Linked DNA regions of Homo sapiens: region 2 is linked to region 1. Evidence: fine-mapped expression QTL. A gene starts in region 1. The other region holds a variant in brackets. All regions are shown on one strand. Distances are between the middles of the regions. Region 1 holds the start of CCDC15 (coiled-coil domain containing 15). Region 2 overlaps SLC37A2 (solute carrier family 37 member 2).

Region 1 (4,402 bases):
TATTAGATGCTTGATCAAACTCCCTTTGGCTGGAACTGATCAGAAATTTTTAAATCAGGAAAAGGAGATATGTTTATCCATGTTCCAAGACTTTAATATTTTGAGTTAATGTGTGTGAATACGATAGTCAATACTTCTTAACATAGAAAAAGTTTGATGGTGTCAAATTTTAGGCATGTTGACACTACTGATATTATACAGATGTAATTTGAGCAATTACAAAGAGGTGTCAACAACTTAAATACCAAAATATCTTTATACCAAATCTTACCAAGTCTTGTGGGGTGTTTCCTGCATTCATCCCTTCTCATTCCACTCCTTTTTTTTTTCCAGAGATGGGGTCTCACTCTATTGCCCAGGCTAGAGTGCAGTAGTATGATCATAGTTCACTGCAGCCTACAATTCGTGGGCTCAAGCACTTCAATCATCCTTTTTCAAGGCTGTTCTTCTCTATTTCTTACCACTAACAAAGTTTCGATGCTATACTCCATGCTTAAATTATTATAATTATATTCTAATTTATCCCCAGGATCCAATCACTCCCTATCCTTCAAAACCTTTGAAGCAATTCATCTAAAGAAAACACTGGTTGATCATGACATTCACCTGTAAATATTAAACAAAGTCAATCCCTTCTCCAAAATTTCCTAAGGTACTCTACCATCCCTATTTTCCATAATCCTGTCAGCAACCATTCTCCTACTAAGCTTTCCACTCCAATCGATCTAATCTACCCTTAGAATCCTGAACCTTGCTTACTTCTTACTCTCCTCATTCTCCTTAATAGGAGAATCATTCCCTTCCCTTCTCCGATCAAATTCTTCATTACACTTTCCTGGGTCACATCAACCCAACGTCATAGCTTCTTGATTGAGCATTATATTCTTAGAACTTAGATAGAGATACCACCTAGACTCTTAAAATCCTTTTTGGAAATAGGCAGGGTAGGAATAAATCAATGAATATACATACATATGTGCAAACATAAATAAAATGAATATAGTATATTGCATTACTTTAACATTTAAACACATCTCATTTCTCTTCTGAGATCAAGTACACTGAGGGAACATATCTCATCCTTTTTTCATCCATGTTCAGCACCTTGTCTACACATACAGAAGACATTTTGTGCCTTTCATAAATACTTCATGAGTGTCTATATTGATTAGGCAGTATTTAAGATAAAAGTGGGAATGTGATGATAAATGACATTTGTTCTCTACGCTCAAGGAGCTCACACTGCATCAGGAAAAGATATATAAACAATCTACTATAACACAATGTGGTAAGTGCCAAGTTAAATTTGAACAAATAGCTAAGGGGCACAGTTTGGTGAAAGACTATCAGAAACCATGGAATTTCTAGTTAGACTTTCTCAGATTATCAGAGTTCATCTCTTTCTCCTTTATTCTATTACTCCATTTTGCCTGAATCCTCATTACAAAATTTATCATAAACCTTAAGCAACCAATTAATGTTACTTGAAGTATGCCAACTATCATCCATACTAAGTTGCAGTGTCTGGAAGATGTAGATAGTGCTTATGTCTTGGGCATAACAAGCAATCAAGAGTCTGAAGTAAACTGATATACAGATATATATCTATATAACCTGTTCCATGTAGATTATGCTCTATATATTATAGTAGGTGAGTAATAAATATTTGATTATGCCAACTAAAGCTGCAGTCAAGTTTTGGCAAATACTTGTTCTATAATCCTAATGCAAGAGCATAAACTATTTATGGCAGAATAGAAACAGCATCCTCGGACTGTTCATCTTTAAGCACCCAGGATTAGAGAAGGCTAATAAAAAGGGTGGTGGGGAACCCCACCATATTTGGATCAAACTGACACTCACATATGCTGGGATTTCCGAACTACCTGGTGAGGCAGGTTCCACCCATGCCCCAACTGGTACTATAGCCTCGTTCCTCTCAGCCAGCACTGCCAACACGTCCTTGCTCTTCAGGGGGTTTAAAGCCAGGGGCAACCTTGAGGTATTTCGAGGTTTCTTTCGGGCCATACTTCCCAGCATCTGTGACTCCTGATTAGGAGAAAGAAAAAGCTTAAAATCTTCAAATGACTGCATTAAAAGTTCAACCTCCTAACACATGAGCCACAGGCCCGTGAAAAGGAGAGAAGCCCTGGAGGCAGAAGCCTGGCATGAAGTGGAAACACACGGATTCTAGAGAAAAAGGAAGAAAAGAAGGGAAGAGAAATGGGAAGAAATAAAGAGGCAAAGAAAGGTTTTTAAGTTGCCTTCTAGAAGAAATGGCGATGAGAGGGAAGAGAAAGGATGGGAATGAGAGAACGAAGACTGTCCTCAGCTGTGGGCGCAGCGAGGCGGGAAGGGAGGAATGACAGCTGCAACCCGGAGAAAGAGGGAGGGGCGGGGACCTGTGTCTGCAGCCGAGAGTCCCAATAATCGGTATAGGTTATGGGAAGACGCGCTGAACGGCTGGGAGCCTCGGGCCAGATAAAAGCCTGCTTCTGAGGCCCCGAGGCCTGCTCCGGCTGAGATGGCACTGGCCAGGAATCGGCCCGCAGCTCGCCACAGACTCAGTCTACTCGGAGTACTAAGGTAACCGCCTCAAGTAGACCGCCACTTTGCGGTGGGCTGCTCCGTCCCGCCCATCCGTAGCCTTATGCCCGCCCTTTCCGGAGCCCGCGTCCCCTCCCGGAGCTGGGAAGGCGTGAGAGGTGGAGTTTCGAGCGCCCGAGGTATCGTCATTTCCTCTTCCTGTCCGGCTGAGGGGGCGGGGACGTGTGGGTAAGCGGAGTCGCTGGGTAATGCGCCATGTGAGGCGCGGTGGGACTGTCGTTCCTGGACCAACGCCGAGACTTCCTAAATCCCTCCGGAAAGGGATGCGTTGGGCCTGTGATCTGGCGACTAGGAGGGTCAGGAGTCCCAGTAGAGGGAATCACGGGAAAAGAATGAAAGAGGGAGGCGAGCCTGGCACGGCTTCCTGGAGAAACAAACTAAGCTAACAAATTTTTCGGATCCTTTGTGCAGCTAATTTTACAGTACTGTTTCATACATCTTATTATATTTGGACATCACGGCCTGTTGAGTGGTCTCCCTCTCTGCTGCAAGCTCTGCTGTAATCCAGAGACACTCAATTATCTCTGTAGGATAATTTATTCATTCGATTAACATACATTACTACTAACTTTTTATAAACCAGTACTGTTCCAAGCACCGGAGATACATAGCTATGAACGAAACAAATATCCCTGCTCAGGGAATTCACAATAGAGTGAGGGGAAATAAGCGAATAAACAATGAGTAAGTAAATGTGTGTGATGTGGAGTAAAAGCAAAGAAAGCGGATAGGGAGTGTGGTGGGCAGGGTGGGGATTGGAGGGATGAAATATTAGAACGTCCAGAGAAGCTGCACTGAGATACTTTTCAGCAAAGACTTAAATGAGTTAATGGAAGAAGCCACTGTGCTCTTCAACGGAGGCTTTATAAACATGTTCCAGATATAACAGCAAGTATAAACGCCCCAAGGTGGAAGCATTGCCTGGTTGAGAAAAAGTCAGGAGGATAGTGTGACTGGAGCAGAGGGAGAGTGGAAGAATGCTGAGACAGTAGGTCAAGCAGGCAATCCGATCAAACATCGTAAGCCACCATAGGTGTTGAGATGGGGAGCCACTGGAGCAAGGTTTGGAGCAAAGGAACACCATAATGTGACAAAATTAAAAAAATAATAATTCCGAATGCTGTAGTGAGAATAGACTGTAAAGAAGACCAATTAGGTGGCTATTGCAATAATTCAGTTAAGGGATTGTGATGTCTTGGATCAAGGAGGTAGTGGTGGAGATGATGATAAGTGGTTGGATTCTGTATCTATTTGGGAGGCAAAACTTTCAGGATCTGTTGAAGGTTTGGATATGGATTGTGTGAGGGAGAGATGTCAAGGAAAACTAGGGGTTTCATCCTGAGCAGCTGTCAGGATGAAATTACTATTTACTGAGATAGTGAAGATGGTGGAAGGAGTAGATTTGGAAAGGGGAAGATCAGGAGTTCAGTTTGGGGCAGATAAAGTTTTATCTAATCAACATCCGAGAAGATAGTATGAGAAAAAGTGTCTGGAGCTCAGAGAAGGGTTCTGGGCTACAAATATAAATCTAAGAGTCGTTAGCCTGTAGATTTAAAGCCATGAGACTGGATGGAGTCATCAAGGGGTTGAATATAGACAGATAAAAGAATAAATCCTAAAACAGCCCCAGGGTATGTCAGTATTACAGAGGCTGAGAAAAAGAGGAGGAGAATGCTAAGAGATTGAGAAGGATTAATCAGTAAACCAAGGAAGAAAACTATGAGGGTGTGATACCTTGAAAGCCAGGTGAAAAAGAAATGTTCCATTGAGGGCAGACAATCTGTGTTAAATCCTA
Region 2 (4,402 bases), 110 kb before region 1:
AGACCATGGGCTTACGAGTCAGACTAATCTTGATTCCAACTCCAGCTCAGTCATTTATCAGCTGTGTGGTGCTGGACAGGCTTACATAACTGCTCTGTGCCTCATTACACTCATATGTTCCACAGGGAAGCTAACATTCACCTTGCAGTTCCACAAAAATTACAAATAAACAATGCCTGGCACAAAGTAGTAGGAAAAACAAATAGAATATAGTCAATCATTAGTGTTTACTCAGTGTTTCATATCAGCCTGGCACTGACCTAAGTACCTTACACGTAGTACCTCATTTAAACCTCAAAACACTCGTGTGATACAGGTATTATTATTATCCTCATTTTACAGAGGAGGAGTCCAAGGCCCAGGGCCAGTCCACTTTCAGCTTCCTATTCTGTCTTCTTCACTTCTTAAATGCCCTCCTTGGGGACATGTGAAAGCAGTTAAATGTGACAGAGATTTGATTTCTCATTTTCAGACTATAAGTCTTTATTTTTATTTGTCTGCACCCTGGCCTGTATTTTGTTTAGCACAAGAAAGGTGAATTGGGTTAATATGTATCTGTAATAATAACATCACCATCATTAATAATGATAGTAAAAGCCGCCATGTATTCCATGCTTCCTGTATACCAGGCAATGTATACATATAATCTCTAACCTTTTATGTGTTAAGTGCTCAGCAAGTCAGTTTTCTTCAAAATCTCCCCAACCGACTTCTGCATTCCCCTCGCTGGTCCTCTGAATGACATGGCACATAGGAAATGCCATCCTTTGGCACTCAATAAGTAGAGCAGGGCCTTCTAAAATTGCTGACTGTGTGTACACAGCCCCTCTCCAGCTTGATTCTTAGTTCCAAGAAGGTAGAACCCTGTCTTGATTGTCTTTGCAGGCCTCAGAGCTCAGCATAATAATGTACTTACAGAAGAACTACGTGACATTTAGTGTTTGATAGGAATCCAAATCTAAACTTATCTGGAAGGAAGTAAAAGGATACCTGTTGAGTACCCTCCAGCAGCCACAAGACGTCAAGAATGTTTCCTTATATTATCGCATTTATCCTCAAGAACCCATCTGACTTTTATTGATGAGGAAACTGGGGCTCAGCAAAGTCAAGGCTCACAGTGGTGAAAGGATTTCAACCAAGGTCTGTCATAAATCCCAGAGATGTTGGGGAATACCGTAGCTGAATTCACACCTTGAGAAGTGTGAAAGTGAAGAGTGTTGGAGGCTGGAGAAAGTCATGTTATGCGTATTACTGAGCCCTTCTAGAATGCCAATGTGTTCTAGATGGTTTATAATGATCCACCCTCCCCACTCCCCATTCTCTCTGAAATGTTAGTTACTTTGGTTAAAAGATATAACTAATATACATGAATGAGACTCTACTAGGAACAATCGTGGCAGAGAGGTATGACTTTGTATACATGGTATTGAAACCTGTTTTTGTTTATTAAAAGGAAAAATATTACACATAAGAAAAATGACTGGTTGTTCCAGAATAAGAAAGGGAACAGGGAAGGTCAAATCTGAATGGATACATTTTAGGTTTGTAGAAAGGAAATTTGATTTGTCTTGGATTATAGTACATCAAACAATAAGTCTAAAAATAAGCAATTAAATGTGTTAAAATTTTGCCAAAGTTGGCAAAATCTTGATAAGTTTGTGAATATTTAATTTAAAAAGAGGAAGGGCTCCTGGAAAACCACAAAGATTTGTTCTTTCATCTTTTAAAAAGAGAGGTGCTAGAAATCATTAGATTTATTTAATATGTTAAT[A/T]TTGATCAATTGCTTGGAAATAATTGTCAAGTCAGAAGAGATGCTCAGCCTTCTCTAGGTTAAATTTATATTGGTAAAATATTATTATTTATCTAAATATTTGAGAAATTATATGCTATAAAAGAGTTGTGCAGACTTCTCAATGCCCTCTCTGTACATGACATGTTTCTATTTATCAGCACCCTGATGGTGCCTTCCCCGATAACAACAGTATACGTGTTACTAGTCACGATTTCAATTATTATTTAAAATGTTACTGGAGGCTGGGCATGGTGGCTCATGTCTGCAATCCTGGTGCTTTGGGAGGATGAGGTGGGAGGATGAGGTAGGAGGATGGCTTTAGGCCAGGAGTTTGAGACCAGCCTGGGCAACATAGCAAGACCCTGTCTCTACAAAAATAAAAAACTTAGCTGGGTGTGGTGGTGCATGCCTGTAGTATCAGCTACTTAGGAGGCTCAGGCAAGAGGATCCCTTGAGCCCAGGAGTTTGAGGCTGCAGTGAGCTATGATCGTGCCACTGCACTACAATCTGGGTGATAGAGCAAGACTTTGTCTCGAAAAAATAAAATAAAATAAAATAAAATAAAATAGTTACTAGGCTGCAACTTTCCTTCTTTAATTTAAATGTAGCATCTTCCAGGCCACTGGTTTTCAACTGGAGATGTACATCAGCCTTTCCTTTGCAGTTTTATTAAAATACAGATATTTAGAACTTATGTTAAGCTTACTGAATATCTTTAGTTGATATTCTTGGCATTTTATGTAAATTATATCCCAGAATTTTTATATATTATATCTTAAAATTTTTTCTCTGTAAAAATCATGTTCATTTTTATAAATTAATATGTTCATTGTGTTTTTTGAAATTAACCTTATATTTTTAGACGTTGTCTAGATTTTTTCTGTTTGGATTAACATCTTTTTGTTTTGCACACCACAGAAGCAACCAAATTTCCTTGTCAGTTGCATTATTCTTGTCATGAATTCTCATCAGATCATTCATTCTTGAAAATTATCAGTAAGAAGTTAATCAACAATTTTTAAGTCTCTGTCACCTACAGATAGTTTTTATTTTACTTTGATGCTTCTTAAAGGCTCTGTAATCAGTTATAGAATAGAGTGGGAGATTTTTGTTTTTTGAGAGATGGGATCTTACTGTGTTGCCCAGACTGGAGTGCACTGGCTTTTCACAGGCATGATCATGGTGCACTACAGTCCCACACTATTGGGCTTAAGGGATCCTCCCACCTCAGCCTCTTGAGTAGCTGGGACTGTAAGCATGCCACTGGGCCTGGCAGGCCAGAGTTTTTATCTTTAACAACCAAATACTGTCTCAGAAAAGCACTGTACTGAGTAATTGCTCTTGGATATAAGTTTCTGATGGAACTACTTAGACAACATTAAGAACGTACTAGTGGACTGAGTCAGGAGTTCCAGAACTCTTTAGTCAAGAAGCAGATAGGTTTTTGAGATTGCTAACCCAAGATTCAGCGGGACAGAATTAATCACACAGGACCGCATGAACTGGGGATGGATGACTGTCTTCTATGTTCAGAATACTGTTGATGTTGATATAGTGTTCTATTTTCTGGACATATAAGGAAGACCTTTCTCTTTCTTCTTAGGCTATATTAACCCATAAGAACTTAGTAGATTCTGCTTTCATAAACTGAAATGAAACACTTATAAATATCTTTTTCTCCCTACCTGACTCCTCAGAATTCAGAAACTCTTATGGAATCTTCTTGCTTTTCATGGAAGTATGGTTATTTGCACAGGTTCAGTAAGAATTTTTTTTTTACCAGTACATAATTAGAAAAATTGGTTATGCAACCAAGACCTTGCCGGGATGTTGTATTTGATCAGGATGCCTATTTAATCAGATACAACCAGCCTCCTCTAAAAACTGAGGTTCACTCTATGCAGCCAATACTAAGAAAAACCTCCCAAGAAAATGGGCTTACTGGGTTTCCAGGTTTACAAGCCAAAAGGAAGGTCACTCTCTGGCTAGCCCAGAAACTTTAGGATATTATGGGGACCCTGAGAAGAGGAATTTGCCCAAATACATCAGTACAGTAGGTAAAACCTGGTGAAGACAGTTTCTTGACTCGGCTTACTAATGTCAGGACAATAAATAATTAAAGGCTTTAAAAAATCTAATCTAGGATTCCTTATGAAAACTTCCAGCTAAGTTTATTAACTTAACAAGGGGTATATGGTAAACTAACACACTTGCAGCCACAATCAAGTCAAATCCAATGAGATCAGCTTTATTTTGTGATCAAGAATAATCCTTCTAAGAATTTTCTTAAAAATCAAAACAGGAGAGACTGTAGAAAAACAATGTATTTCCGTGGAAAACTATGCCTTGTCTAGCACATAGTCCGCCAGGTTATCAGATTCCAGCTTTTAATTGACCTTGAGCTATTTTAAAATTCTTTGAAGTGGTAGGTAACTGAGAAGCCATGCAAAATATACCTATGAAGATAATTTCAGTAGTCTTCCCTCACAACCTGTAGAAGACCAATTTGGTCTCAATATTCCTAACCTATAAATGAATATGTTCTTTAGATTCTCTTTTTAAAATTGTGGTAAAATATACATAACATAAATTTTGCCATTCTAACCATTT

What was found. PIP is the estimated chance that this variant, and not a neighbour inherited with it, causes the effect.
Region 2: its variant is the best candidate, but not a certain one, in a credible set for the expression of CCDC15 in whole blood (TOPMed, PIP 0.57).

Annotation. Positions count from the first base shown.
Region 1 is chr11:124,952,371-124,956,772 of GRCh38, reverse strand. CCDC15 (coiled-coil domain containing 15) reads right to left here and starts at 2,571. Exons shown (of 16, transcript NM_025004.3): 1 at 2,403-2,571; 2 at 1,864-2,049. The coding sequence starts at 2,040. It overlaps CCDC15-DT (CCDC15 divergent transcript), which reads left to right and starts at 2,782. Exons shown (of 3, transcript XR_948134.3): 1 at 2,782-3,291. RefSeq lists an enhancer at 2,368-2,911.
Region 2 is chr11:125,064,922-125,069,323 of GRCh38, reverse strand. All of the region lies in intron 1 of SLC37A2 (solute carrier family 37 member 2), which reads right to left. Among named protein-coding and RNA genes, the nearest start is that of SLC37A2, 3.8 kb to the right of the region's middle. The variant A/T (reference allele first, on the strand shown) is at 1,772.